Homo sapiens: one gene and its partners. The protein of the gene in region 4 purifies or fractionates together with the protein of the main gene of each other region. This does not show direct contact. Each region holds a gene or a part of one and is shown on either strand. Other genes may lie near its edges. The genes, in order: ZBTB20, MACROH2A2, HOXA10, TEAD2, LRRC41, SMARCA1 and RALY.

Region 1 (4,733 bases), on a different chromosome or scaffold from region 4:
ATTAGAATGTAAGCTCCACAAGGGCAGGCAATTTTCTCTCTTGTTCATTATTACACTCCAAGTGTCTAGAACAATATGATAAATTTAACCATCCATTTCAGAAAAATATGATTATTTCAGAGACTAAAGCAAAGCCCATCAATCTCTACTTCCGTATTCCAAATGTTTTTGAAGAAGTCTCTGCTTGCCACTGATTCTGTGAAGTTATTCAAAATAATATGTAATTATTTTATAAATTATAGATCGCAGGAACTTAGCTGTAGCTTTTATTGCCCTTCTAAAACAACCTAATTATTCAGACTGGCCTTTTTTTCTAGAAAGTCCAATTTACCTAATTATTCAGACTAGCCTTTTTACTAGAAAGTCCAATTTGTCTAAAAAGTCTTCTGAAAACTTTCACTAATGCAACAAAAATGATTCGCTTAAAATATTTTTTCCTTAGATTTTCTTCCTATACCAAGTAGTCAAATTCTTATTAACAGGACAACAAGAGGAATTAGATGTTTGCGGGCCTCAAAAACTTTCTGATCCAATTATAGAAGAAACTGGCATCACATCAACTGGTAGTTCTAAACACCCCCTTCCCCAATTATAGCCCTCACATGAAAGTTTCTCTTTCCTCTAGTATTCCATTTAATCTCGTATTTTCTTTTAGTAGCTAGTCAATGTACACATGACCTATATGTGCATTTTCTTGGTTTTGTAGTAATCTTAAAACACGGGCCTAGATGGGTAAGCATAAAGACTTCTTCCTGGAAATGGATAAAATTTGACAATTTTTAACCTGATACTTTCTTTAGCTTGTTAAAATTAGGACCTCACCGTGAAAGGGCATATTGCTGTGGAGGCTGGTAGGCAGCAAACTTGTCACCTGATCTTCATATGCACAAGGCCTGTATTCCACTGGTCTATAAAATCTGAAATCATAAAACCAAAAATATCCAATTGCCCAACTCACTGAGCAGCTAATATAGTTCTAGAAATCTCACTTTTCTTCTTCTCACCTGTTTACTTCAACACCATGTGTCCCCAAACCTAAGGCCCTCCAAAATTGAGCTCCATAAAAATCAAAACCCCAATCTTGAAAATTAAGCCTTGAGTACTGAACAGTTACATCAGCAATTCCTCAAGGGCAATTTCAAAAGCTTTCCTGGGAGACTACTGGAAAGATGGCACAGGGATATCACCATGCACTATGTGTGCAACAACTTTGATATATTCTAAGAATCACAAAGAACAAAGGCATGAAAATCAATGTAATTTTTTTTCTTTCACTAGAAAAATACAGATTCTTCATTTTAAAGCAAAAAAGCAAAAAGTAGCCACATCTTGACTGGACAAACTTACAGTTGACCCTCAGTATCCATGGGAGATTGGTTCTGGGACCTCTCTAGGAAACCAAAATCCACAGATGCTCAAGTCCCTTACATAAAATAGTGTAGTATTTGCATTTAACCTAATCACATTCTCCCACATACTTTAAATCATCTCTAGGTTACTTATAACACCTAATACAAGTAAATGCCATGTATTAATAAATCGTTGTTACACTGTATTGTTTAGGGAATTGTGGCAAGAAAAAAACTATATATATTCTATTCCATCTATTCCCCCACACCCAAAATATTTTTGATCTGCAGCTGGTTAAATCCACAGATGCAGAACCCAGGCACAGGAAGGGCTGACTGTATGTGACCGGGAGTGGAGGGGGATCTATATAAATATTTCCACAAAATAGCAAAGGGTACTTGGGATTGGGAGCATGAACAGAAATGAAAACAAACCATTATAAATTTAAAGATGACTGGTTATCACTTAAATTTAGTGTCTACAGCTATTTATTTATAAAATGGTAATTGTGTTTTAAAACTTTCAATGGCAACAAGTTACAACAGTAACTTCAGAATAGCGTTCACTTGAAAACATTGGGTGAATGGCCTCTATAATTTTTTTAGCTGAAATGTATACACCGCCACGCAGTGAGGAAACTTGACTTTAGCACCCTTTTGGTATTTTTAATAGAAAAAACAGTGGAGAAGATTTTCACATGTCTAGAAAGGTAACATGTTCAACTTAGGTTTGGCCAATGCTGATTCTGAGGACAGTACTACACCCGCAAGCTTCCAAACTACTTCCTGATTCATTCAGATTTTCATTGGAGAGCTGTCATCCTGCTACTGACCTCATTCAACCCAGTTCGGAGTGAGAGATCAGCGGATTACCGCGCTAGGTACCGTAGCTGTACGCCATATTGTGTTTTTCGCTAATGTTTAGTTTGTGTGTGTGCCTAGCATATGTTTGTGCAAGTGTGTTTATCAATAGAACTTTTAGAAAATCCCTGCCTCCTGCCTCTTCAGCATCCTTAAAAAGGATAACAGCTGGGGGCGGGGGGTGGGGGGAGGACCCAAAAGCCACACAGACAGGAATACATTAAACAGTGTACGAGAGACGGCATTTGTTTTAAACTTTCAAGAACCTTCCAACCATTTTTATATCAGGAATCAAAAAGTGTTAACATGTTTTAATGTTTCCGAAGTGGCCCAAAGAAGAGAAAGAAGGAAAGGTGTGTCTTCCCTTCCCAAGCCCCCTCCTCTCTAGTCGTAGAAGCGAAGCAGGCGGGGGCCGGGAGCTCCGGCGTCTGGAGAGACATCCAGCGGCTGTGGGGCCAGGACACCTCCTGCCCCCCAGTTCTCTGAAGACGCTCCAGAGACCGCGAGAGCCACGGCAAGCGGGGGAGGGCGAGGAGGGAGGGGGCAGAAGACAAGCGGGCGCCTCTAGCAGCTCCTGAGCCCCGGCTAGTCCCCCTCAGCTCCTCTTCTTGGAAGCAGCGGCTCCAGGCGCAGGGAGTAGAGAGAAGAAGGCAGAAGACACGTTTCCAGCTGCGGGACGTCCCGCCCGCCCCGCCACCCTTCGACCCTCCCGCGCCTCCCTCCCACCTCCCCGCCGGGTCGGGCGAGGCAGCCGCCGGGCGCTAAGAAGGGCGCCGGGGGAGGGGGCGCGGGCGGGGCGGGGCGGGGCGGGGCGCGGGGGCGCGCGCGCTCATCCAGCTCAGGGCCCGCTGGCTCGCCGCTCTGTAACTCGCTCCCCCAACCCCACCCCGCTCCCCTCCTTCCCAGTCCCGCCGCCCCCCACTCCAGGCGCCTCGCAGACGCCTCATCCCCCTCGGCACGCACACACTCCTCCCTCTCTCCCGCCCGTCCCACAACAAATTAGAGTTTGTGGCATTACCTCCTCGCGCTCTTTAATCTTCTTTCCTCAACTCCTAAACTTCCCCCCGCCCCTACTTCTTCGGCAGAAGGCCCACATTGGACGCTTCACTCCGCGAACCCTCTATCTCTCCCCGCTATAGGATAGCTCTCACGCCAATCTTGGCTTCAGTGAGCCAATGAGAATGGGACGCCCCTCGTGAGGTTGCCGCCCATAAACAAAATGCACTCTTCCTTCTCCCCTCCGCCCCCCCGTCCCCGCCCCTTTCTTCCTCTTCCCTCATCTCTGTCACCTTCGATTGGGCTAAAAGAGGCCCAATCCGCTATCTCAAACATCCATTGGGACGCGGAAACTTCGCTCAGAGAAGTATTAACAGGCGATTGGTGGACAATCCTTCCACTTCGCCCACCCCCACAACCCCCTCCCCCCGCCGCACCTTCACCCTTTCTGAAAAGGTCAATCGTATCTCGTTGTTCAGTGATCCGGGAGGTGGAAGGCTATTGGTTCAGGGAGCCCGTCAGACCGGACTGGAGTGAGCCATGATTGGTCGACACAGGCGCAATCAGGTTAGGTTGCTTACTCCTCCGCTCCTCCCTCCTTTTCCTCCACGCCCCATCTCCCCCACCCCCTACTGCTTTTACTTTCTACGCATTTCTATTTCCTCCTTTATTTATTTATTTGTGATAAACTTAAATGACCCGGCGACGGAGGCGGTACTCTAGGAGAAGGCTGAGGATGACGAGCGGCGGCCTGGGGCCAATTGCCGAGAGGGCTGCGGGGTGAGGGGCAGCGGCGGTGGCCAGTGAGAGGCAGGTGTCTGGAGCGCGCTGGGCCTGTGGAGCCGGGATGCCCCAGCGGAGGCGGCGGTTACCCGCTGTCTGGCGCGGCGAGCTGCGCCGGGGGAGCCGCGGGAGCGGAGAGGGGGGTGTCGCTGTCTTGGACAGCTGAGGCAGCGGGATGGAGGCTGGATCCCGGGCGGTGGGTGGGAAAGCCGGAGGGAGGGTCTGGCTGGCGGCAGCGCGCAAGGCCGCACCGGGTCACGCTTGATTCCCGCGGAATGGGGCGCAGGTTGCCAGACCGGGTCCCCAGTGCTAGGGCTCAAGGAAGAATTTGTTCATGCAGAAGATTTAGAAAAATACTATGTAAAAGAGTTTGGAGTAAGCCTCCCTTAATATAAATGAGATTTATTATCCTGCCGGAAAAAGCAGATTATGTTTCTTATTACTGAACGCCTGAAGTACCAACGACTCAACCAGAGCCCACAGAATTCAATATCCTGGGTGGTAAAAGGAACAAATAAAGCAACACGGAAAATTAAGTGTGGTTCAAATGCTTCAATAAAATCTTCGTCCTCAACCATTTGTCATTCAACATAGCACTCCCCAGAGCCAAATTCTTACCAAATATTGGTCCAGTACTCAGGCATTGGAGAAAAAAATGAGGCTGAAGTCCAGCAGGAAGCCCAGGATAGATTCCTAAAAAGGATTTCTTACAAGGGCCAAGATGGGAGGGTTGGGGAAATCGCT
Region 2 (4,079 bases), on a different chromosome or scaffold from region 4:
CAACATGGAGAAACCCTGTCTAGTAAAAATACAAAAATTAGCTGGGCGTGGTGGTGGGTGCCTGTAATCCCAGCTACTTGGGAGGCTGAGGCAGGAGAATCACTTGAACCCAGAAGGCAGAGGTTGCAGTGAGCCGAGATCACGCTATTGCACTCCAGCCTGGGTGGCAAGAGTGAAACTCTGTGTCTAAAAAACAGAAAAAGAATTTGAACCGCAAGCCAGTGCTCCTGAAGATTTGCAGCCAGATCCAGTGCAGCTCAAAACCTGAGGCAGAGAAGAGAGTGAGACATAGCCTTAGTTTGGTAGTGTCCCCAGGTGACATAGAAGGAAATGTAATTTCTTTCTGGAAGAACTCAGCTCCAGGCTGACAGCAGTTCTAAGATGCTTCCTGATTTCAACAATATTAAAATATTTAAACAAAAAAAAAGTGCATCTTAACATGGTTAAAACAGACCAACTGCAGTGCAGGCCCACCCTGTGGCAGGGGGTCGGGGAGGGTGGATCAAGAAAATATTTCAGGTGCAGAGTCAGTGAGAGGCAGCGATGCTGCATGTTCAGGGAGGCAGAAGCTGGAGCTAAGGTAAGTCCAGGGTTTCCAGGGCTGAGCAAACTGATGAAAAGTCAGGACTTTCATTCATTTGTTGAATATTGGAGCACCTGCCTGCCAGTGACTGTGGCAGGAGCCAGGCAGCAGCAAGGAATACAAAAGTGCTTCAGTGAAGATGTCAGCTGGGGCAGAACCAGTTCACGTTAAGCATCTACGGTGTGTGCTGTCGGGCGCAGGCATCAGGATGTGGATGTGATTGTAGGCCCTGAACACTCCTGAATTTTACAACCAGGCGGGGACCCCAGGGTAACACAGTACATCACTTAGCACAGCTGGCTGCTGAATTGCATGGCAGAGGCCCGGAGAGAATGGGCGAGGGAGTCAGGGACAAAGGAGGATAGCCAAGTGTGGAGACAGAGGTGCAGCCAGACCCATGTGTGCAGGGGACTGAGCCCACTGGCTGGAGGACGACTGGGCATCCAGAAAGAGCAAGAAATGGATAGACTCCAAGGGGAGAGGGGCCGACCATGAAGGGAGCCTGGGAGGACTGCAGTAAGGCCAGGGGGCAATCAGGAGCAGTTGCAGATTCTGAGTTTAAATGTGGAGTTTAAGGACCTTGGCTCCAGCAACCGTGTGGAGGATGGTTTGGCAGACAGAGGGCTGGGGCCCGAAGACCATCAAGAAAGCTGTATTGGATGAGGGTGGGGGTGGAGTGGGGGTGAAAATGAAGCACATGGGCCTGAAATGAGACAAGGCAGAGGAAACTGATGGTGTCTGCAGTGACAAAGAGGGAAAAAGGGGAATCGGGTTTCAGGAGTGAATGGCCATTTTACTGGGCACGTGTTAGCCCTGGGGCCCCAGAAAGGTCATGAGGTGCAGGTCCCTGTTGAAAGCTAAGGAGGAAAATGGCTTGCAGATGGCTGCTTAGGAGGTGGGGCTGCAGCAGAGAGAAGAGCACTGGGCCCAGACACGCAGGAAGAAGAGAGGCCATTGTGGGAAACTGAGGTGCTGTTAAAAGAAAACCCACAGTGTCACGGAAACCAGGCATCAGCAGTAGCAGCCTCTCAGCAGGACAAGGGGCCAACCTAGAGTCCCCTTTTGCTGTGGTGACTCCCAAGAACTGTGATGGCTCACCTGGGGGAAGGTTCTAGAAGCTCCCAGCAGCAGCACTGCCACCCTCAGAATGCAGGTCTTCACCAGGCAACATCACATTAGGTAAGAGAATGCCCCTAGTCATTATGTGGATAGGTGCTTATACCAAATACCAGGGTCACAGCCCTTGCAATAACTTGACCCTCATCCTTGACAACTCTGGAGAACATTACAAAGCATTATGGCTACAAGCTGTGTTATTCATTTCCAGTTGCCATGAACATACTTTGTTTTGGACTGAAATGTCATCGTGCACTACCCTGAAAGTCATTTTTTACTTGATTGGATGTTTGACATTGCCAATAGGAACATATTCCTTTTATTTAAAAATGACTTTTGGCTGGGTGCAGTATAATCCTAGCACTTTGGGAGGCCGAGGTGGGTGGATCACTTGAGGTCAGGAGTTCAAGACCAACCTGGCCAACATGGTGAAACCCCATCTCTACTAAAAATACAAAAAATTAGCCGGGCATGGTGGCGGGTGCCTGTAATCCCAGCCACTTGGGAAGCTGAGGCAGGAGAATCGAATCGCTTGAACCCGAGAGGCAGAGGTTGCAGTGAGCTGTGATCGAGCCACTGCACTCCAGCCTGGGCAACAGAGGGGCATCCTGTCTCAAAAAAAAAAAAAAAAAAAAGACTTTACATTAGAGGAATACCATTCTGCTAGTAACATGATTATACTTTTAAAATATATGAAATAAATCAGCCATGACTGTAACAAGCCAAACTCTGTCCGGCATACAATAGCAGCCAGGTGCTCGGGAAGATGGCACCATGCAGGCAAGGCCCATCTCCAGGGTCCTTGGTTCTCAGCAGAGCAGCCTCCAGTTTTAGGGGCATCATTGTTCAGTCCAAAGAGGGACACTCTGCTTCTGGTGCACAAATATACGTGGTCGTAGAGTCAGCACGCATGGCGGGCCCCTACCCAGGGCCTCGGTGTATTGTGTGGCCTGGGTCCTGCACTCAGGCGTTCACGTGTGATGACACTGAGCCCCGTCTAGGCACTGGAAGGCAGGGAGCCTACAGCCTCCCCTGATGGACGAAGGGGTCCCTTGGATTTGGCTTCTACCCATGTGAGGAAGTGCAGTCAGCACTTCCCTGACACTGTGGACATTGCCAGGAAATACTTATATAAACTAGGTGGGCATCATAGATTTCCAGTCAGTCTTTCACCTCAACCCCACACACAGCTCTGGAATACGGCGGACACACGTTTCTGTTACAAGTGCTGCCCCTAGTGGCCACGGACCCTTGCTACGCCGATTCCTGGGTTCCTGGAGGGGCACAGGGCGCAGACGGGCAGCGTGGGGGCAAGCATGGCTCATGGCTGAAGCTGCAGCTGCCTCAGGCAGATCCGAGGGAACTGCTCCCCTGGGGAGTCCCACAGGGACTTCCCTCGAGCTTAGCAGCCACGGGGCTTTATCAACTCTGTCACCAATGGGAACCACATTTAGGGGAGTAAACAGTAAAACAAAGGAGTATGACAGAAATTGTGAGACAAGGCTGGCCTAATTCAGTTTCACAGCCCGCTTTTGAAACCCCACTCTCTGCAGGGCATGTGGAGATCATCAAATGGCAGTCCCTGTCAAGGAACTACACAATCAAGTTCAGTGGTTCTCAACTCATAGAAGGTCCTAAAATCACATAAGCATAAGCCCCTGCACCAGACCTACTGAGTCAGGACCTCTGGGTGGTCAGTACCCTGACTCTGTGGGGCCCAGGCACAGCTATTTTTTAAAAGCCACAGTAGGCCAGGTGTGATGGCTCACGCCTGTAATCCCAGCACTTTGGGTGCCTGAGGCAAGAGGATCACTTGAGCCCTGGAGTTCAAGACCAGTCTGGGCAACATAGCAAAACCTCATCTCTATAAAAAAATTTTAAAAATTAGCACATGCCTGTAATCCCAGCTACTCGAGAGGCTGAGGCACTAGAATCACTTGAACCCAGGAGGTGGAGGTTGCAGCGAGCTGAGATCGCACCACTGCACTCCAGCCTGGGCGACAGAAAAAGACTCTGTCTCAAAAAAAAACTAAAAATAAAAAAATAAAAATAAAAGCCACTGTATTCATTTCCTGTGGCTACTGTAACAAATTACCACAAAGTTCGTGGCTTCAGACAACACAAATTTGTCTTCTTACAGTTCTGGAGGCCAGAAGTCCACAATGAGTTTTAAGAGTCTAAGATCCAGGTGTTGGCAGGGCTGGTTCCTTCTGGAGGCTCAGGGAAGGATCCCTTCCTTGCCTTTTCCAGCTTCTAAGCTGCAACATTCCTTGGCTCCTGGCTGCATCGTTCCAATCTCTGTCTCCTTCATCCCACGGCCTTCTCCTGCCTTTGACCTTCTTGCCTCCCTCTTATCAGGTCCCAGGCTCACCCAGACAGT
Region 3 (4,830 bases), on a different chromosome or scaffold from region 4:
TTTTTACTTTCTTTCTCACTTTTTAAATCAGCCAAAGTCAAGCCCGTTTGCCAACCTGCATGTCCATGCCTGTAAGCCCTTCTCTTGGCCAAGGAAGAAAGGAAGAAAGAAAAAAGAAACCCAGGGGCCTGTATCCCCTGATTAAACACAGCACAGCACTCCAGGCAGACATGCCCGGTGGCGGCTCCTTTGCACCATTGACCTCAGGCCAGACACCTCAGCGCCAACAATGGGACCTCGGCCTTCCGGCTAGGTTTGCCCCAGGCTGGGCAGGAAACCAGCTCGGCCGAAGACAGGGGCCATTTCGAGCAGTGGGACCCCAAGACAGCAAACCCAGCCCAGTCAGGACTTGACACTTAGGACAATATCTATCTCTATAGAATTTTAGCATGATATGGCTTTTTCCCCCAGAAAACAACAAATAAACCAGCACCAAGCAAACACAAAGAAACAAAAAGTCAGAACAAACCAGCCCTGCACAGATGTAACGGCCCAGGAGATGGCGAGTGTGGGAGGGAGGAACAGGGCTCCAGCACAGGTGCGAGTTCCTGGGCAGAGCCTGAAGACAGAGGGAGGGGACCAGCGCTCGGGAAGTGAAAAAACCGCGTCGCCTGGAGATTCATCAGGAAAAATTAAAGTTGGCTGTGAGCTCCCGGATCCGGTTTTCTCGATTCATTTTCTTCAGTTTCATCCTGCGGTTCTGAAACCAGATTTTCACTTGTCTGTCCGTGAGGTGGACGCTGCGGCTAATCTCTAGGCGCCGCTCTCGAGTAAGGTACATATTGAACAGAAACTCCTTCTCCAGCTCCAGTGTCTGGTGCTTCGTGTAGGGGCAGCGCTTCTTCCGACCACTCTTTGCCGTGAGCCAGTTGGCTGCGTTTTCACCTTTGGAATTGCCTGGCATGTAAGAGAATAAAGAGGGGATGATTAAGTCGAGGCCACACGGGCTGCCCGCGGGGGTGAATTGCCTCCGTTTCTCCCATAAGAGAGATGTCCCAAGTCACAGAGAAGAGAGTCGTGCCCCCGTTTTTGGCTTGCTGAGAGCAAGCAGTTCCTCCAAAAGTCATGACAAAAATTGAGTGGGCCTTCAATCTACATGACCCTTCCAATTTACATTTCCCCCACTTTTCCAAACACCTGTTTTAGCGCTAAGCCGTAGATGCTTGCAGAAGGAAAGGCCTGGGAGGGCAGGCTGTACATCTTGAACTTAACGCTTTTCTTTGCCTCTTGCCATATGGCAGACAAGCATTTCCTGTAGCCCCCAGGCTAGGAGCGCGGGGTGCTTACTTGGAAGATGGGCCAGGCAGCTTGGCTGTCTCACCCCAGGGCCCTGATTGCCCAAGACTCGATAAGGGGAGAAAGAAGGGCATCATTGGTCCAATGGGGAAGGCAGGAAAAACCGATTCGGGGGTCAAGGGCCCTCCCTCAAGTTTCTCCAGGAGCCAGGGATAGATAGCTGGGCGATTCCGAGGTCCAGGGGAAGGGAAATGGCCCTTCTCTGGCTCTCAGCTCAGGGCCCCCCGCTTCCAGGCCGGATTTGCCTTTTCTTCTTCCCGCAACGAAGATTCCCGCCCCTCAGCAACTTTGAAAAAAGCATGGGGGATCGTAAACTCGAACTTCGCCGGTTAATGGGCTTATTTATTGGCGCTGGCGGCTGCTTATTTTGGATGCCTTACAAACATCCGCGCTATCTGCGGGCGAGCTACTTTCCCTCCCTCCCCCTCCCCCCGCGTGGGCCGCGCCGCGCAGGCTGGGCAGGGACCAGGGCTCTGGGTCCTCCCGGCCACAGGAAAGAGCGCACAGGAGGGGGCCTGCTCGCTGGTGTCCTCGTCCCTAGTCAGGGGGAGCTGAGGCCAGCGCCGAGGACGTCTTGCTGTGGGGCGCTAAGCCGGACATGAATTTTACTGCGTCCCCACGCCCAAATATTAAAAAGCAAGTTCACAAGGTCAGCCTGCCTGCAGCTTGGGCCAAGGCCGGCCGGCTGCTGCGCGGGCTCCTAGTTTTCTGATCCTTCTCCTCCTTGTGTCTGCCTGTCTGCCCGCCTGACTGCAGCCCTCTGCAGCCCTGCTTACCCAGGGAATCCTTCTCCGGCGAGGCTTTGCTGCTCTCGGAAGGGGCCGGGGAGAGCTCCTCCGCGGCCGAGGACGACGCGTGCGCCTCCTCGTCGCCCTGCGAGCCCCCGCCGCTGCCGCAAGCCAGCGTGGGGGGCGGCGGCGAATCGAGGGCTCGCTCCTTCCGGGCCGCATCGGCCGAGCCGGAGGCTAGCGCGGGCGGGAGATCGAAACCGCGCCCCGGGGGCTGCGCGGGGAACGGGCCAGCCCCGAGTTGCTGCGCGCCGCCGCCGCCGCTGCCATAGCCCTTGGCGGTGCCGTAGGCCTGAGAAAGGCGGAAGTAGCCAGGCACTGGCACCCCGCTGGAGGTGCCCAGGGCGCAGCCGTCGGGCGGCGGGCCCCGCGGGAAGGGAGCCAGTTCGGCGGCGGTGGCCGAGACTTTGGGGCATTTGTCCGCCGAGTCGTAGAGGCAGTAGGAGCTCTCTTCTTTGATGTTCTGCGCGAAAGAGCACGAGGTGGCCTGCGGCGCTGGCTGGGGTGGTTGCGGCGGGGGCGGCGGCTGCTGCTGGGGCGGCGGCGGCGGCCCGTCAGGCGGCTCCATCCGGCAAGACCGGGGCGCGTCTAGCCACAGGTCTATGGGCGAGGGCCCGTAGCCGTGCGCCCCGGGACCTAGACCCCCGCCACCGCCACCGCTGCCCGGCGACGCTGCCTCATTGCGCTTGCCGCCCAGCGTGGGGAAGAGCCCGCAGCTCTGCAGCCCGTAGGGCAGGTCGGCGGCGGGCGGCAGGTAGACCCCGCCGTGGGCGTAGTAACCGCCACCGCCGCCGCCCCCCGCGCCACCACCACCGCCGCCTGCCTCGCCTCTGCCCGAGCTGATGAGCGAGTCGACCAAAAAAGAGTTCGCGGCGGGGCTCTCCGAGCATGACATTGTTGTGGGATAATTTGGCGAAGGGAGCAGATAGCCCTTTCTGGCTGACATTTCTTGTGCAAAACATGCTGAATACGATTAGCAATCCCCCCGCACCGCGGCGGGCGCCCGCAGCCAATCCCGAGCCAGAGTTTCCGCGCGACCACTCCCAGTTTGGTTTCGTAGGCGCGGGGCCGCTCTCCGAGGGCGCCCTCAGAGCCCGCGATTGATATAAATATGTAATCTGTATTGATGGGCCAGGAGACGCACCCCGACACCTTGGCCCGAAGGCCGGGAGCTGTGGGGGCTGCCCCAACGTGGCTGGTGGGGGGCCTGGCCATTGGGCTCGCCCCGCCCCTACCCGGACGTGAGCCCCATACCGGGGTCCCTTAGAAGGGCCCTTGGGCCCCGCGCAGTTAACAAGTGGGGTGTTTATGGTGCGCGCCCAGTCTGCCTTGGGTGCTCACCATCCCTGTCGCAGAAGCTGCCACTAGTCCCCGGTGTACTCTAACCACTGAAGCGGCCGTGTCGGGGACTCACGCGCTTCCCATTCAGCTCTGGATCTGGAACTGGCCCCTTGTCTGAATTCTGCCTCCTCAAAAGTGGCGAACCTGGCCCTATGGCCGTCAGGATCCTCAGAGTGTCAGGAGCCCAGAGTGAACTAGAAGCTGACTTGCCTCTACTTCCAGTATCCACAGATTTTTCCCCAAAATGCAGTGGTTGTTCCCTAGCCCCTAACCCCCAACACTTTTCTCCCCTAGTCCGTTGATCCAGTTAGGATCTTCTCCTCTGGTGTTGTGCTCACCCGGCTTGCCTTCTCTACAACTCCTGTCAGTGGACTTTGGTGGGCTGGCGGGACTGGGGGTGGGAAGCGGCTGCCAGCCTTGATGGAAAGACGGCCCCACTCCCACTCCCAAGGCCAGAGCCAGATCCAAGCATCCCCTCATCACCTAGGGAAGACTCTAAGCCCACAGTCATTTCGGGGAAGTAAAATGCTGGCCTTGGGGTCCTTGGCTGGCCCAAAGTGAGAGACTTGGAGGGGTGTGCCCGGTGTACACCTCCGCTGCTTTATGTTCCTGCTCTCCTGTTAGCTTTGGCACTCATATGCTCCTGGAGGCTACAACAAGAACCAGTGTCACTACACTCCTACCTCTCTGTCCCCTCCCCTCTTCCCCTCCCTCCCATACCCTCAGCTAGGGCAGTCCTTGCTCCTGCAGTGTGTGCATTTTAACGAGGCCTCGGTGAGGAAATCCTTTCCCTGCAAGGCCGGGCTGGGCTCATGGTCCTGTTATAAGAGCATGTGGAGGTCAGGCCCTTTGCTCAGCAGGCTCAGGGGCTCTGTTTTAGCCAACTGGAAATGGCCGGCCTGGGGTGCTAGCCCCCAAGTGTGAGCCTCATGCTAGTCTCAGGAAATGCAACCTTTTCCGGCCAGATCCAGTGGAGCCCGGGAGGTCGCTGCCTTGCCCCTGGCCCGTGGGCTACAGGTCTCCAGGATACTCTAGGCCTGCCCGCCCCTCCGGCCCCAGTCGGAGCTGGCATTACTGAACGCCGGCATCCCAGGAAATAGACCGCTCAGGCCGCTGCCTTCAGCTGGGAAAGACTCTTGCATCCGGGTCATACGCGGCACTTTGCCTCCTTCCTCCCAGTGTGAATCCAGCCCAAGGTGGAAGAGGAGCCTGAGAGGACCCTGAAAGCGCAGAGAGAGCTGGCTAGGTAGAGCTCCAGCTCTGGCTTCTGAGATTCAAGCAGCTGCGGTCGCTGCGGGCAGTGGCTGCTCCGAGCTCCGGGCCCAGAAGGCCGCTCCACCGCTAGCGCGGCGCTCCAGCCACTTCAACCTCGGCGCCCCACGGTGACCCGGCCGTAAGGACTGAG
Region 4 (3,240 bases):
AGAAGAAAGCCTGGCTAGGTGTGGTGGTTCACTCCTATCTTCCCAGCACTTTGGGAAGCTGAGGCGAGAGTTTCGCTTGTGTTCAAGAGTTTGACACCAGCCTGGGCAACACAGTGAGACCTCAACTCTACAAAAAATGAAAAAAATTAGCTGGGTGTGGTGGTGCGCACCTGTGGTCCTAGCTTCTGTGGAGGCTGAGGCAGGAGGATCACTTAAGCCTGGGAGGTGGAGGCTGCAGTGAGCCAAGATTGTGCCACTGCCCTCCAGCCTGGGTGACAGAATGAGACCCTGCCGAAAGAAAGAAAGGAAGAAAGGAAGAAGGAAAGAAAGGAAAGAAAAGAAAGAAGGAAAGAAAGAAGGAAGGAAGGAAGGAAAGGAAGGAAAGGCCTGCTGAGGGCCTGAACTTTACTGTTCTTGCTGGGAGTGTTGTTGTTCTGGAGCTTGCTGTTCACGGTTCTGGAGCTTTCTGCCATGTGAAGCAGAAGCCTGAAACTGCTCTGGGGATGTGCAGCTGAGGGCTTAGACATTGTTGGGGCTTAAGACAGGCCTTATCAGGTCCCAGGACTGGAGAGCCACCCCCTTAGGAAGCCCAGCTGCTGAAGGGGTTCAGAGGAGCAGCTGGTAAGGTCTTTGGTTTTGCCACGGTGAGAGATGGAGTCGGGCCCCTGAGAAGACGGACCTGGCACAGTGTTAGCAACTAAAGTTAGGAAGAGGAAGAGGTGCGCCTCGCAAGGAGGTGACTCAGACCAAAGGTGTGATGAGCTCTTAGGCTTCCTTAGGCCCCACTTGGCCTAGTGACACTTGGCCAGCTGTCTACACACACTTGGCCACTGGGGTCATGGAGGGAGTCTGACCTCTCAGATTTGGCCGAGGGGGAAGTGCTCTGAGGAGGAGTCAGGCCTCCTCAGGCTCCGTGAGGTCCCGTTGCTAGGGAGTAGCCACTTGCCTTAGCAACCAGAGTGAGAGGGGCTTAGAGGGAGGTATTCATCTTGAACTGGTTGCTAAGAAGTAACTGCCATAGTAACCAGGCCCTTGGAAGGGGCTGAACTCTTGAGTTGCGGGCTTCAAGGGAAAAAGGTTGAATTGGCTGGACACAGTGGCTCATGCCTGTAATCTCAGCACTTTGGGAGGCCTAGGTGGGTGGATCACCTGAGTTCAGGAGTTTGAGACCAACCTGGCCAACATGACAAAACCCTGTCTCTACTAAAAATACAAAAATTAGCCAGACATGGTGGCGTGCGCCTGTAATCCCAGCCACTTGGGAGGCTGAGGCAGGAGAATCGCTTGAACCCGGGAGGCAGAGGTTGCAGTGAGTCAAGATCGCGGCATTGCACTGGGCAACAAGAGCGAGACTTCATCTCAGAAAAAAAAAAAAGAAAAGAAAAAAGGTTGAAATTGAATTCCAGGGCTCCTTTGGTTACTGGGGAGACAGGGCCAAGACTGTTTTGGGGACCCAGACTTCTTCAACGCTGATGGACGGTGGATCTTCTCCAGAAACCAGCCCTTGGAGAACTTTGAAAGCCTGACGCGGTGGCTCATGCCTGTAATCCCAGCACTTTCGGAGGCCAAGGTGGGAGGATCGCTTGAGCCCAGGAGTTGGAGACCAGCCTGGGCAACATGGTGAAACCCTGTTTCTACAAAAAATACAAAATATTAGCTGGATGTGGTGGCATGCACCTGTGGTCCTAGCTACTCAGGAGGCTGAGATGGGAGGATCACTTGAGCTCAGGAGGTCGAGGCTGCAGTGAGCTGTGATTGTACCACCACACATTGCCTGGGTGACGGAGCAAGACCCTGTTCCCCCCCCCCCAAAAAAAAAGACAAACAAACAACAAAAAAACAAAACAACACTGAAGAATCAAGCCGGGAACTGCAGGGGTAATGGTAGGCTATGGGGCAGAGTCCCCACTGTGTTTTTTTTTTTTTTAAGATGGAGTTTCGCTCTCGTTGCTCAGGCTGGAGTGCAATGGTATGATCTCGGCTCACCGCAACCTCTGCCTCCCGGGTTCAAGTGATTCTCCTGCGTCAGTGTCCCAGTAGCTGGGATTACAAGCATGCACCACCACGCCCGGCTAATTTTGTATTTTTAGTAGAGATGGGGTTTCTCCATGTTGGTCAGGCTGGTCTTGAACTCCCAACCTCAGGTGATCCGCCCGCCTCGGCCTCCCAAAGTACTGGGATTACAGGTGTGAACCACTGCGCCTGGTAGTCCCCACTGTTTATAAGGGATGTCCCCTCTGACTCATCTGTGCCTTCCCATCTCCCAGGCGGACCTGAACTGGGGCCCAAGTGGTGAGGAGGCAGGGGCCGGTGGCAGCATCAGCAGTGGTGGCTTCTACGGAGTGAGCAGCCAGTATGAGAGCCTGGAACACATGACCCTCACCTGTTCCTCCAAGGTCTGCTCTTTTGGCAAGCAGGTGGTGGAGAAGGTGGAGGTGAGGCTGGAGGGGTGGAGCTCTGGGTCAGCACTTGGGGGTGCAGAATGGACCAGAAGCCATCATGACTCAGGCATTTGGGAGTATGCATGGAGGGAGTGGGTCCCAGCCTCTTTGAGGGTTTAATGCATGCGTTGGGAGCTAATGGGCAGTTCAGAAGTCACAGGCAGGGATCATTCTGCGGGCTGACAGGTAATGTGTAGTATAGAGACTTAGAGTCACTGAGATTGAGAAGGGTCTTATGGATATGGAGAGGTTCTTAGGGCAAGAAGGTTCAGAAGTCACACTTACAGTTGCTGGAGACTTGGGGAAGTCTCAAGTTTAGAAGTCAGAGTTTGAAGACGTCATGGAGGGGTCTTTGGAGGGTATCTGAGGGCTGGGAGGTTAGAGGAGTCCAGAGGTCTTTGGGGGTTCAGAGAATCACTTTGAGGGGCTTGTGATTTGCAGGCTCAGAGATCCTGATTCGGATCTCCGAGGGTTCAGGCCCAGTCTCCAGTCACTGTGGGTGGGGTGATGAAAGGAAGGTGGCAGTGAGAGTGAGTGTGGTGGCATCTTAGAGGCACAGGGTGGAGCTCAATTCCTGGGGTGACCCGTGGGTCTCTCAGCCACCATTTTCCCAACTCCCTTCCCCTTGGTTCAGACGGAACGGGCCCAGCTGGAGGACGGCAGATTTGTGTACCGCCTGCTGCGCTCGCCCATGTGCGAGTACCTGGTGAATTTCTTGCACAAGTTGCGGCAGCTGCCTGAGCGATACATGATGAACAGCGTCCTGGAAAACTTCACCATCCTCCAGGTGATGCCTGGG
Region 5 (4,079 bases), on a different chromosome or scaffold from region 4:
CTGTTCTTGAACTCCTGGGCTCAAGCAATCTGACCACCTTGGCATCCCAACGTTTTTCTGGGATTGTAGGCATGAGCCATCACACCCGGCCTGATTTGTGCTTTTACTTTTTTTTGTTTATTGGTTTTATTATTTTTGGAGACAGAGTCTCACTCTCACCCAGGCTGGAGTGCAATGGAGCGATCTAGTCTTACTGCAACCTCTGCCTCTTGGGTTCAAGTGATTCTCATGCCTCAGCCTCCCAAGGAGCTTGGATTACAGGTGTGTGCCACCACGCCCGGCTAATTTTTGTATTTTTATTTTGTTTTGTTGTTGTTGTTGTTGTTTTCTGAGTCAGAGTCTCACTATGTCACCGAGGCTGGAGTGCAGTGGTGCCATCTCGGCTCATTTTAACCTCTGCCTCCTGGGTTCAAGCAATTCTGCCTCAGCCTCCCAAGTAGTAATCCCAGAGTAGCTGGGATTACAGGCATGCACTACCATGCCTGATTTTCAGTAGAGACAGGGTTTCACCATATGCACCAGGCTGGTCTCAACTCCTGACCTCAAGTATCTGCCCACCTCAGCCTCCCAAAGTGCTGGGATTACAGGTGTGAGCCACCACACCTGCCTGTTGGTTTTATTCTTTTTTAAATTATTTTTTTCTATTCTTTGGTGTTGAAACTTTTTTGTTGTTTTTGTTTTAAGACAAGTTCTGGCTCTATTGCCCAGGCTGGAGTGCGATGGTGTGATCTCGGCTCAGTGCAACCTCTGTCTCCTGGGCTCCCTCCCACCTCAGCCTCCTGAGTAGCTGGGACTACAGGTGCACAACACCACAACAGGATAATTTTTCTATTTTTTGTAGAGACGGGGTTTCTCCATGTTGCCCAGGTTGGTCTCAAACTCGTAAGCTCAAGCAATCCACCCACCTTGGCCTCCCAAAGTGCTGGGATTACAGGTGTGAGCTACCGCGCCCAGCCCTTTCTTTCTTTTTTTAAGAGACGTGGTTTTGCACTGTCCCCCAGGCTGGAATGTAGTGGCATGATCACAGCCTCCAACTCCTAGGCTCAAGCTATTCCTCTCACTTCAGCCTCTGGAGTAGCTGGGATTATAGATGTCAGTCACTGTACCCGACTCTTGTGCCTTTACTTTTTACAACTAATTCTTTTTTTTTTTTTTTTTTTTGAGTCGGAGTCTTGCTCTGTTGCCCAGGCTGGAGTGCAGTGATGTGATCTTGGCTCACTGCAACCTCTGCCTCCTGGGTTCAAGCAATTCTCCTGCCTCAGCCTCTTGAGTAGCTGGAACTAAAGGCACGTGCCACCACGCCCAGCTAATTTTTGTATTTTCAGTAGAGACAGGGTTTCACCATGTTGGCCAGGCTGGTCTTGAACTCCTGATTTCGTGATCCACCCGCGTTGGCCTCTCAAAGTGCTGGCATTATAGGTGTGAGCCACTGTGCCCGGCCACAATTTATTGTTTATACAAAAGTCATTAGAGTATACTGTAAAGTGAGGCTCTAACTTAACTTTTTCCAAATAGCTAACCAATTGCTAGAGAATAATTTATTGGGTAAATCTTAATTTATTCATTGCTTTTTCTCCAGAGTATCTATTCTATTATACAGATCTTTTTTTATTTGTTAGTTTTTTGAGACAGGGTCTCTCTCCTGTTGCCCAGGCTGGAGTACAGTGGTGCGATCTTGGCTCACTGCAGCCTCGACTTCCCAGGCTCAGGTGATCCTCCTACCTTGGTCTCCCGAGTATCTGGGACTACAGGCATGTGCCACCATGCCCAGCCAGTTCTTTGTATTTTTAGTAGAGACAAAGTCTTGCCATGTTGCCCAGGCTGGCCTTGAGCTCCTGGGTTCAAGTGATCCACCTGCCTCAGCCTCCCAAAGTGCTAAGATTACAGGTGTGAGCCACCGTGCCTGACCTTACAGATCTCTTTATATACCCCAGTACTACACAGTTTGAAATACTATTGCTTTATAAGCATTCTATATTTATCTTGTTCACCATTGTATCCCTGGAACCTAGCATAATGCATGGAACTGAGCAGGCACTGAATAACTGTTTGTGACTTATGAGCTGAAGGCTATTGTCATGCAAAAGTGGGAAGCGGAAAGACACCCTCTGGAATGGACATGCTCCAAGTTAGGACCTCTGCCTAACTGACTGTTGGGCCACCAAGCCTGGGGCCTCTAAATGCTCTGAAATGCTTTGAGCCAAGAAGACAGAAAGCTTTCTCCAAGAGAAAAATATAATCTTTATCACTTGCTGGTCAACTCTAGTGCTTGTGAAATACTGGAACAAAGTGAATCTGATGTTTCCTTAAAGATAGCAAAAAGCAGTTACTGTTTTCTAATATTCTTGAGTCTGCTTCTCTTCCTCATAAGGTCTGTTGTCCTCATTCTGAACGCCAAGGGTTGCAGTCCAGATTTGGAAGTGAATAAGCCGAAGGAGATGGGGTTCAATGTTACTGAACCCAGTGCATCCCCAGAAATTAAATCTCCAATTCCTGACATTAGCTTTTTTTCCACCTGTTATTTGGCCTCATTCACCATAGAAGGCCCAGTTCAAATACTACTTCCTAGGAAAGACTTTCTTATTCTCTTCTCTCTCAACCTTCTTACTATCCTCTATTACACCACTTATCCTATCATATGTGATCTATTTGTAGATTTCCCTATTAAACTGGTAGGTCCTTGCCGGGCGAGGTGGCTCACGCCTGTAATCCCAGCACTTTTGGAGGCCGAGGTGGGTGGATCAACTGAGGTCAGGAGTTCGAGACCAGCCTGACCAACATGGAGAAACCCTGTCTCTATTAAAAATACAAAAAAATTAGCTGGGTGTGGTGGCGCATGCCTGTAATCCCAGCTACTTGGGAGGCTGAGGCAGGAGAATTGCTTGAACCCGGGAGGCAGAGGTTGCAGTGAGCCAAGATTGCGCCATTGCACTCCGGCGTGGACAACAAGGGCAAAACTCCGTCTCAAACAAAACAAAACAAAACAAAACAAAACAAAACTGTTAGGTCTTTAAGATTAGAGGCTGCATCTATTCTTCCAATATCTAGTGTAAGATCTGGTACCTGGTTAAGTTTCAGTAAATGTTTATTGAATTAAATCTACCCCATCACCTAGTTATGGGGCAGCAAAAGAAACTGCTTAAATGAGAGCTCCAGTGATTTATATCTGTATCAGTGAATAATAGAATCTCAGGTCTAAAAGGAGCTCTAAAAGTCATCTTGTGCAACCCCTTTTACAATGCTGAATCCCCTGCAGAACACCCTAGTGTCAAGGAGTTACACAGACTCCATTTGAACTTAGTGATGGGAAGTTTATTACCTCTAGAATTAGCTTGTTTCATAAGCTCAGGGTTTAAGCTTTACGTAAACTTCAGGTTAGCAAAAATGTATCTTCCATTAGCTTCCATCCAGAACAAGTCTATTAATCCCTCCTTCATGTGACAGCCATTCATATATTTCAAGATGGGTCATGTTTCCCAAGTCTTCTCTTTTTCAGGAAAAACATCTCCAGTTGTCCCAATGTGACTCACATAATGTGGCTTTGACTTTCTCCAATCTCCACGGGTAGCCTGACCATTGCAGAGCTAGGCAGGACTGTTGTCCACCTTGTCCTTCAGCCTATACTATATTTACATTAGTTCACACAGCTCAAGGTATAGTCGTTATAAGTGGCTTCAACACATTGTTGACTAAACTCCCTTAATCTTTTTTATACAAGCTGTTACTAATCATACTCCTTTATCCCTCATCCCGATACCATGCAATTGGAACTTTTAAAACTCATTGAAGTATTGGTGTATTCTATTAAATTTCATTTTGTTAGATTTGACCACTGCACCAACACCATCAAGAACTCTAGGAATCCTGGCTCTGCCATCCATTGTGATCACTAACTTTCCCTGTTTTGTGTCCCCTGCAAATACAGTGAGCAAGCAATTCAGTGACAAATGCCAAATGGACCAAAACCTTGTGACAAGCCATCAGAGCCCTCCTCCCAAATCCATTCCATCATTGCCTCTGCACTTTATCAGTACCCAGCTTGTGTTTGTGTGCTATTCCTGCTTTTACCATGCAAAATC
Region 6 (4,079 bases), on a different chromosome or scaffold from region 4:
AGCATTAGATATAAGGTCACTCAATTTTAAACTCTGGTTCTTAGTCTTTCTCACCAAAAAAAAGTTTTAAAGCCTTAATCTACCCCTGGAAATAGATCTACAAGTTGTTGGAGAGAATATGAGCTACCTGAAACATGTAGATAATGCAGATAAACATGTACAATGAAAATATAAGTATGCTGAAGTATGTTGATATTAAAACAATCCAGCATGAAAATAAAATGCTATTTTAACTAACCTTCTTTTCCCCTCTTTCCAGAATAGTTGTAATGTCTTCATCTGTCAACTCACTCTCTTTAGAAGCAAAAACATGGGTGGCTCCATGCCGTATCATTTGTAACATTTCCTCTTTTGCCAGCTTGTTAGACTGTTGGTCAATGAGTCTTCCTAATGATAAAAATTGAAATTGTACATATTCAATCAATCATATTCCAAAGAAGGCATAATCATTCTAATCAGACATTATCACATTTAACCACACATAAAGCTTTAAAGAACAAAAAATTAGTGAGCATTAAGGTTATTTGTTTAATAAACCCTACAAGTTTTTCTTCTAGCATACTTTCTATTTCTATATAAATTCCCTTCTGTAAAACTCAGTTAAAACCCAGAAGGACAGAAACTTTTTTTCATGTTCAAACTCTGTTTTCAGATCAAACTTCTCTATATGAAAAGGTACCCTCTAATATGTTTTCAAAAATTTAAAAGTAGCCATTTTATCTGCTAAATAATCTCAGGTACTTCAAAAAGCATGCTACTGACATTCAAGAATAAGCTAGTGATGTTCAACTACTCCATATATCAAATGCCAGGGTTTCAATTCAGAAGATTTCAATTAGCATTTTTTGTTCGTTTGTTTGTTTGTTTGTTTGTTTTTGAGACAGTGTCTTGCTCTGTCGCCCAAGGCGGAGTGCAGTGGCGCGATCTCGGCTCACTGCAACCTCCACCTCCCAGGTTCAAGCAATTCTCCTGCCTCAGCCTCCTGAGTAGCTGGGACTACTGGTGCACGCCACCACACCCGGCTAATTTTTTGTATTTTTAGTAGAGACAGGGATTCACCATGTTGGCCAGGCTGGTCTCAAACTCCTGATCTCAGGTGATCCACCCGCCTCGGCCTCCCAAAGTGCTGGGATTACAGGCATGACCTACCTCACCCAGCCTCAATTAGCATTTTTAAATTTTTTCCTTTTATTTTTAGGTGATACATAACAATTGTACAGACTCATGGGATACACAGTGATGTTTCAATTTTTCCTCTAAGTTTTCAAATTTTGGTCAACTTTTATTAAAAGTAATCTCCTTTGAAGAAAACTACATGTGTTTTACAAAAAACACCTAATTAAGTTTCTATGTATAAATACCTTGTTGTATAACAATTGAATCGAGTCTCAGTTTTATCTCAGCTCTTTCTACAATCCTCTCTTCAACAGTGTTGTCAGTGATGAGACGGAATACACGTACTGGTTTCTTCTGACCAATACGATGTGCTCGATCCTAGTAGAAAGAGTTCTAATGTAAGATATTGGATATTCTGGATAAAATTTAGAGCCATCATATGCTATAAAATTCTAAAAATAAAATTAGTTATTTTTCTCTAGATCTGACACTTTGGAAAAGAGCATGATGAATATTGAGAATATCTAAAGACCACTGGGAACAAAGAAATCTGCAAATATTATATTGTACCATTAATGGGAAACTTCCAGGACAAAGGGCAAAGCACCTGTAAGATGAATAAAAGAGGGAGCTGAAAGTTTCTGGATTGAGTTACTAAGTAACTTTAAGCCACTAAATATAAACATCTTCGAAACTAGCAAGGAATTTTATTAAGTAGTTAGGGTTGCTATGGTGGCAAAAGTCTGCTTTATTTCATCATCAGGCACTTCTTTCTGCTTACTGAGGGATATGCAGTAAAGAGTTATAAAAATTAATGGGATATTACTATCCTTACTATTCAGTAGCCTAGGACTGGTCCTATGGTTTATAGTTGGTACAGGTGACAGGTGGCGAACTTCTAGTGGTATAAAACCATCTAGGGAGAGTATTTTTAAAACACAGAAGCTGCTAGAGCAAATAGGTAAAGGGAGGAGGGTGGTAGAGAAAAAAAAAATGTAAGTTCAAAACAGGCCTTGTACTAAATATAAAAACACTAGAGCCTAGTAACAAAGTTTCAACACAGCACATTTTTCAAACAGAATGCAATCCCCTGCACATATTTACATTAAACCTGAACCAGCAAATCCTGAAAGATGGGATGCACACTAAGACTTCTACGGAAATGAAGTGCTATCACTATTAGATTTTCCAGTTCAGTAACACTGTAACTTACTGGGGCTTACTCCTAGTTAGTCATATCAAACAGGTAGTTCAATACCATCGTAATGCAATAATAATTACGCCAAAGCATATTGATTTTGGAATGTCCCAGTGGTCAATCCCTTTCAATTCTCTATTATAAAAGGAAAGCCTTCTAAGTTATACCTCATTGGCATATGACTTTTCATTGCTCCCAAAAAGACACTTATCCATAGCTATATATTCAAAACCTAAGAAGTTATTTTGCATCTTTTTACTTCTAAATTATATTTCTTTATCTGAAAATGTGAGTCACATTGAGAGAAGTTGTAGCTCTAGTTCAATAAATGACACCAAAATATCAAAGGGGTTACCTGTAGTGTCATGATGAAAGGTCAGAGAAACTTTGCTCCCTAAAAAAAAATGTTTTTAAGTGTAGAATAGCTTTTGCATGGTATCATTATTAAGTAGCAAGTGTTTTTCTGGAATATATTCCTTTCTTACCTTTTTGCCTTCTCTCCCAAATTGTTTTTTATGAAAGTTAAAATCCTACCTCTCTTAATTTCAGTACTAAGGATTTTAATATATTTAGTTGTTGAACAGAATAATAACAAGAGATTGTTTTTTAATCCTTTTCATTAAAACAAATTTATGTGTCCTCTTCAATCTGTAGGAATGGGAAAAAACTGACATTTCTATTTCATGAAAAAAACCAAAATCAACACATAAATGCTATAAGTTGGATCTGGGGTGTGTTTGTTGTTCGCTTTCATTTCTTTTGTTTTTGCAATTAGCATAGCAACTGTGTTTTCCAGGATAATCTACTGTAACTTCTATAAAATCTCTCAAAAATTGTTACCTTTTTATCATAAATGACCTTTATGTGTGTAAATAGCAATAGTATTCAGAGCTATGATAAATTTCTGACACCATTAAAGATTACTAACCATAGCTTGTAGATCAACCTGTGGGTTCCAGTCTGAATCATATAGTATAACCACATCAGCACTTGCCAGGTTAATTCCGAGACCTCCAGCCCTGGTACTTAGCATAAAGATGAATTTGCTACTATTAGGAGCATTAAAAGCCTCTATTGCTTCCTTTATTTTTTATTGATAAAGGGATAGAAGAAAAAGAGAAAAATAAAATTAGACCATCAGGGTCCTTAAGAAACAAATAAAAACATTTAAAATACATATAGAAAATCTTCACACACTTTATAATATTCCTTATAAATATACTTTATAATATTCTTCCATCTTCAAAAATATGTAAGCATCTATACATATACTGTACTGTGTGAATTTCTGTAGAAAGTATATTATATAAATGAAGTTCCTAATCTTTAAAAGCTTACATCGATAGATACAAATTTAGAACAATTACATACACAAATTTAACTAAGCAAGTAATAATTCATTTACATTATTTAAAAACAATAATAATGAAAACGTTTTGAGTGAGAGCTGAAATATATCTAGGAGGTAAAATATCAGAAATCTCAACTTCATTTCCATTAGCTTATGAATGATTAGTTTAGAAGATCAACCAACAGAGAAAATGGTTTACAAATGGGAATGAGGGCAACGGATAAAGGGGAAAGTAAGAAGATTTCTATCAGTATGGTAACAAGGAACAAGCAGGTAAGTAATGAAGAAAATCAGGATGACAATCCAGGGATATTTAGTAAAGAATGTTAAAATTAATATGAATATTCTTACTATATAAAGATCTCATACAAATTAATTAGAAAAACAAAGTCCAGTAGAAAAATGAGCAGAAAA
Region 7 (4,079 bases), on a different chromosome or scaffold from region 4:
GCTGGTCTCCAACTCCAGGCCTCAAAGGATCCTCCCATCTTGGCTTCCCAAAGTGCTGGGATTACTTGCGTGAGCCACTTCCTGGCCTGGGGCTCTTTTTTTTTTTAAAGGTATTAAACTCATTCTTGAGGTCTTTCCCTTCCCTTTGGGACCTCATCACTCCCAAAGCCCCACTTCCTAATACCATCACATTAGGGATTAGGTTTCAACACACAGATTTGGTGGAGGAGGCACATTCATACCATAAGAGATATAAACTGGCTTTGTTCACTAAAATTCTGTACAACTGTGAGGAATTGTAGTAGAAAAGGGAAAGGGTGAGGACCAAGGAGAGCGTGTGTGGCTGACTCAAGGTAACATAATCTTGCCAGGGAAGTCAGAACCCAAGGCATCCCTGTGCCATGTGCAATCTTGCCCCTGCAGGTGCCTGTTTTTGAGGTCCTGATTCCAGTTCTGGCTTTGCTCTATTAACCAGTTACCTTGCTTCTCTGAACCTATCTCAGTTTCCCTATGTCAAACACCTCCTCACAGGGCTGTTGTGAGGGTTAAATACTGTAATACTGTGCAGCATTCAGTAATTAGTGGCCGTCCTTTTCTTTTTTTCTTTTTTTGACGGAAAGTCTCGCTCTGTCGCCTAGGCTGGAGTGCAGTGGCGGTGATCAAACAGTTCTCCTGCCTCAGCCTCCCAAGTAGCTGGGATTACAGACATCTGCCACCATGCCCGGCTAATTTTTTTTTTTTTAAAGTAGAGACGGGGTTTCACCATGTTAGCTAGGCTGGTCCTGAACTCCTAACCTCAAGTGATCCACCTGCCTTGGCCTCCCAAAGTGCTGGGATTATGGGCGTGAGCCACTGTGCCCAGCCAGTGGCTGTTGTTACTGTGACGGCTCTCTGGGTGTCTCATTTACCCAAAGATCAGAGGTACCTTTTAGGGCTTTTCTACCTTTGCAAACCCCTGCCACTTTTCTCCATGTTCAGGCTTGTTTTTTGTTGAATTTGTTTTTGCCACATTTCTTCTACTCTTACTAGCCTGGAGAAGCAGGCCCATCCCTTTGAGCCGTAAATTGCATTTCAAAGCCTGTTTCACTAGTGGATTTTAATTAGCTTAAAAGGCCCAGCTTTTATGCAGCAATTGTTTCTCCTGCAGGTAAAGGTGAAGGCACTTATTGGGGAGCCAGTCCCCAGTTTTCTCAAACGTAGCTTTTTTCTTTTTTCTTTTTTTTTTTTTTTTGAGACACTGTGCTCTCTCCCAGCTCCTCAGTGTCCTGGGGGCCTGTCTCTTACCAGCCCCAAATGAAAAATGGAATATAAGGACCCTAGACTTAGCGTCAGAAGACCCATGGGGTAATCTTGTCTCTGCTACTCACTAGCTGTAGCATCCTGGCCAAGTTTTTACTGTGGGTAAAACTTCTCTTCTGTTCTTCCGAGTAAGAGCATTTATAAGCTCCATGTGCACACAGGTCTCTGCTCATCTGACATTGCAGAAGTCTCTAGGAATAAATTTGCTTCTCTCCTTTCCCCCAGCCACCAAGAACAATCCTTCTACCCACCTCTCCTCAGCTCATTGCTAAACCTAGGACCCCTGGGGGCTGCAGACACCTTGCTCTCAATTACACAGCTAATCTGTGAGGCAGAGCTTGGCCCAGGGCAGGAAATAGCTTACCAAGTGAAGTAGCTCCTGCTGAATGGATGTCAATATTTTCTAGGGCTGCCACTCTAAGCTAGGGGGTACCTTGAAAAGCATAGGAAGAATTGGGTGGGAGGGATTGAGTTGGTCTGTGGAAGTGGGTGTTTGGTTGAAAGATTAGAAAATGGTATCTGGGACCTCTGCCCTAGTGGTCCTAACCACTTAAGGCAGCCCACAGCTAGACCTTCTGACCACCTCCTGGGACATATGTTTAACCACTCCCTCCCTAACATTGATTGAACACTTACTGTGCCCCGAGTTTTGTCAGGCCTGCCCTATAACATTTGCAGGGCAGAGTAATAAGAGTACAAATAGAGACCCATGTACCATATGTTTAAACATTTGAAGGTTCTGAATGAAGCTAATAAATTGTGATGTTCCCAACAACCTGGAATACCATGTCTTAATTTAGAATTCTTGGACTCATTAGGATTCTGTACTTGAACCTGGCAGTTCAGGGAGACCTAGCCTGGCTCTACCTCCTTTTCATTCCCTTTCCCACCTCTATCCCTCACTTAGAGGAGCCTCATCAACATGTGTGTGGTCACTCAAGCCTTTGCACACCCCCACAGATACCTGTCTCCTTGGGCTGAGGGAGTCCACACAACTGTAGCACATCCCACTTTCCAAAGGAGTGTACAGGGCATGAAAGTGGATAGGGGGCTGTTTAGACGAGGAGCTCAAGAGGTTGGGTACCTAGCGCATGCCATAGGTGAGCATTTCTCCTTTTAACTGCAGATTTCTCACCCAGAGCAGCATTTGCAACCACATACATACACTTCCCAAGTCTCTCCTCTACAGATCAGAAAACTGATCTTCATATGCCATGGCTTCTGGCTGCCCCTCCTTGGCATTATACAGAATGTGTTCCACTGTGACCTTTACCCTCATCTAGAATGGGGTTCGCAGATGGCAGTATTGGAATAAAGAGGTGCAAGCCAGTGTAATTACAAGATCTTGTGAAGGGCTTTAGGGTTTGCAAAGTCCTTTTATGTACATCATTCCAAACCCCAAGGAATGAGAGAAAAGACTGGCAGGGCCAAACCTTAAAAACTTGGCTCACCAGTCAAGGTGAGTCCTGATCTCGTCACAATACCACGAACAGCTGTTCAGCAAATGCTTCCTGCTCAGTGGTGCTTGTGGCTCCCAGTAGAGGTCACTCTTTGTATCTCTATCCACACCCCAGGCTTGGTTGACTCCCTCTAGCCAAAGCAGGTGGCTTCTCCCTAGGCCAAAACTATAGCACTTTGAGCTGAACCACCTAGGAGAGAATCATCTGATGCCCACACAGGGGCCCTATTAACTTCTTGTATACCCGTGGATAGACAAGGAATTAACCCTTGAATGGCTTGTCATCCATGTAGGAGAGGGACTGTCAGCGAGAACTGTGAGGAATGGCAAGCCCATGGGAAAAACATGTATTGAGCATTTCCTGCCTCGTATGCACAGTGTGTTACTACCTTTGTGTCCCTCACTGCCTGATAAGTGTAGATGAGTGGAACCAAAGGCAAACTGAGTAACAAGAGTCTGTCTCTTTCCAAGTCAGTTCCAAAGCTGGCACCAGCCCCTTCATCAGTAGCAGTGATGGGACCCTCTCAGCCCCTTTCCTTTATCTGAGATAATGCACTGCTGACTCTAGTATATCCATTGGGTTCACTTTAAGCCTAACCCTGGGAGCAGTTTCTTCCCAAGTTGGGCTCACGTCCAGCCTATGATTCCCTTGTAAACAGTACCACCTGCTGGTCAGAACGTGCCAGCTTCCAGGCTGGGAGGATTTAAGAGAAAAAGAGTCTCTTATCCCCTAGTGGGATAAGAGATACAGATGTATCTTTTCCAGTTCACTGAAAAGAAGTCCCCCCAAAATATTAGGTAAATAGGTTGGCAGACTGATGAAAGTTTTTATATATGCTATTTGGAGTCTTTTATCACCTGAAATGGCCTTAAGGTTAGGTTACTGAGATAGGAGGGTTCCAAAAGGGAGTGGCATCAACCTGTACCAATGAGCAGAAGACTGGGCCGGGAACTGCCAAGGCTTAACTTGAGGCTTTTCCTACTGAAATTGAGCTTCTCTCCTTTCCCCTTTCCTCTTGGAGCCTATGCCCAGCCGTAAACTGTACGGGAAAAATTTGTACAGCCCTTTGGGGTAAAAGACCTGGCCAGAATATAGAGAGCAAAGGGTAGGTGCAGTCTCATCTCTAAGCCAAACAGAACAAAATTTGAACGAGTTAGTATTAATATGGGTAACTAAAAAATAAATTTATTAAAAATAATTCTCAGGTGAATGTGCTGACTTTCTGTGGTATCTAAATTGGCTTTAGCTCTGGGAAGCAAAATGATAAAGTTGAAAGAAATAGACTTTAGTGACAGACTGACCTGTGTTCGAATGCTCATT

What was found.
Region 1: the proteins of TEAD2 (region 4) and ZBTB20 purify together in Homo sapiens (affinity purification with mass spectrometry; one large-scale study listed by BioGRID and IntAct). This does not show direct contact.
Region 2: the proteins of TEAD2 (region 4) and MACROH2A2 purify together in Homo sapiens (affinity purification with mass spectrometry; one large-scale study listed by BioGRID and IntAct). This does not show direct contact.
Region 3: the proteins of TEAD2 (region 4) and HOXA10 purify together in Homo sapiens (affinity purification with mass spectrometry, with the first as the bait; one large-scale study listed by BioGRID). This does not show direct contact.
Region 5: the proteins of TEAD2 (region 4) and LRRC41 purify together in Homo sapiens (affinity purification with mass spectrometry; one large-scale study listed by BioGRID and IntAct). This does not show direct contact.
Region 6: the proteins of TEAD2 (region 4) and SMARCA1 purify together in Homo sapiens (affinity purification with mass spectrometry; one large-scale study listed by BioGRID and IntAct). This does not show direct contact.
Region 7: the proteins of TEAD2 (region 4) and RALY purify together in Homo sapiens (affinity purification with mass spectrometry; one large-scale study listed by BioGRID and IntAct). This does not show direct contact.

The regions. Positions count from the first base shown.
Region 1 is NC_000003.12:115,143,991-115,148,723, forward strand, and holds the start of ZBTB20 (zinc finger and BTB domain-containing protein 20), read right to left. Parts: upstream 3,299-4,733; 5' UTR 3,229-3,298; intron 918-3,228; exon of another isoform or gene 823-917; intron 1-822. UniProt on the Homo sapiens protein: May be a transcription factor that may be involved in hematopoiesis, oncogenesis, and immune responses. Plays a role in postnatal myogenesis, may be involved in the regulation of satellite cells self-renewal.
Region 2 is NC_000010.11:70,104,489-70,108,567, forward strand, and holds part of MACROH2A2 (core histone macro-H2A.2), read left to right. Parts: intron 1-4,079. UniProt on the Homo sapiens protein: Variant histone H2A which replaces conventional H2A in a subset of nucleosomes where it represses transcription. Nucleosomes wrap and compact DNA into chromatin, limiting DNA accessibility to the cellular machineries which require DNA as a template.
Region 3 is NC_000007.14:27,171,277-27,176,106, forward strand, and holds the start of HOXA10 (homeobox protein Hox-A10), read right to left. Parts: upstream 3,045-4,830; 5' UTR 3,031-3,044; coding exon 2,073-3,030; intron 898-2,072; coding exon 623-897; 3' UTR 1-622. UniProt on the Homo sapiens protein: Sequence-specific transcription factor which is part of a developmental regulatory system that provides cells with specific positional identities on the anterior-posterior axis. Binds to the DNA sequence 5'-AA[AT]TTTTATTAC-3'.
Region 4 is NC_000019.10:49,342,426-49,345,665, reverse strand, and holds part of TEAD2 (transcriptional enhancer factor TEF-4), read left to right. Parts: intron 1-2,267; coding exon 2,268-2,435; intron 2,436-3,075; coding exon 3,076-3,228; intron 3,229-3,240. UniProt on the Homo sapiens protein: Transcription factor which plays a key role in the Hippo signaling pathway, a pathway involved in organ size control and tumor suppression by restricting proliferation and promoting apoptosis.
Region 5 is NC_000001.11:46,293,452-46,297,530, forward strand, and holds part of LRRC41 (leucine-rich repeat-containing protein 41), read right to left. Parts: intron 1-4,079. UniProt on the Homo sapiens protein: Probable substrate recognition component of an ECS (Elongin BC-CUL2/5-SOCS-box protein) E3 ubiquitin ligase complex which mediates the ubiquitination and subsequent proteasomal degradation of target proteins.
Region 6 is NC_000023.11:129,488,699-129,492,777, forward strand, and holds part of SMARCA1 (SWI/SNF-related matrix-associated actin-dependent regulator of chromatin subfamily A member 1), read right to left. Parts: intron 3,396-4,079; coding exon 3,243-3,395; intron 1,495-3,242; coding exon 1,362-1,494; intron 388-1,361; coding exon 239-387; intron 1-238.
Region 7 is NC_000020.11:34,066,602-34,070,680, forward strand, and holds part of RALY (RNA-binding protein Raly), read left to right. Parts: intron 1-4,079. UniProt on the Homo sapiens protein: RNA-binding protein that acts as a transcriptional cofactor for cholesterol biosynthetic genes in the liver. Binds the lipid-responsive non-coding RNA LeXis and is required for LeXis-mediated effect on cholesterogenesis.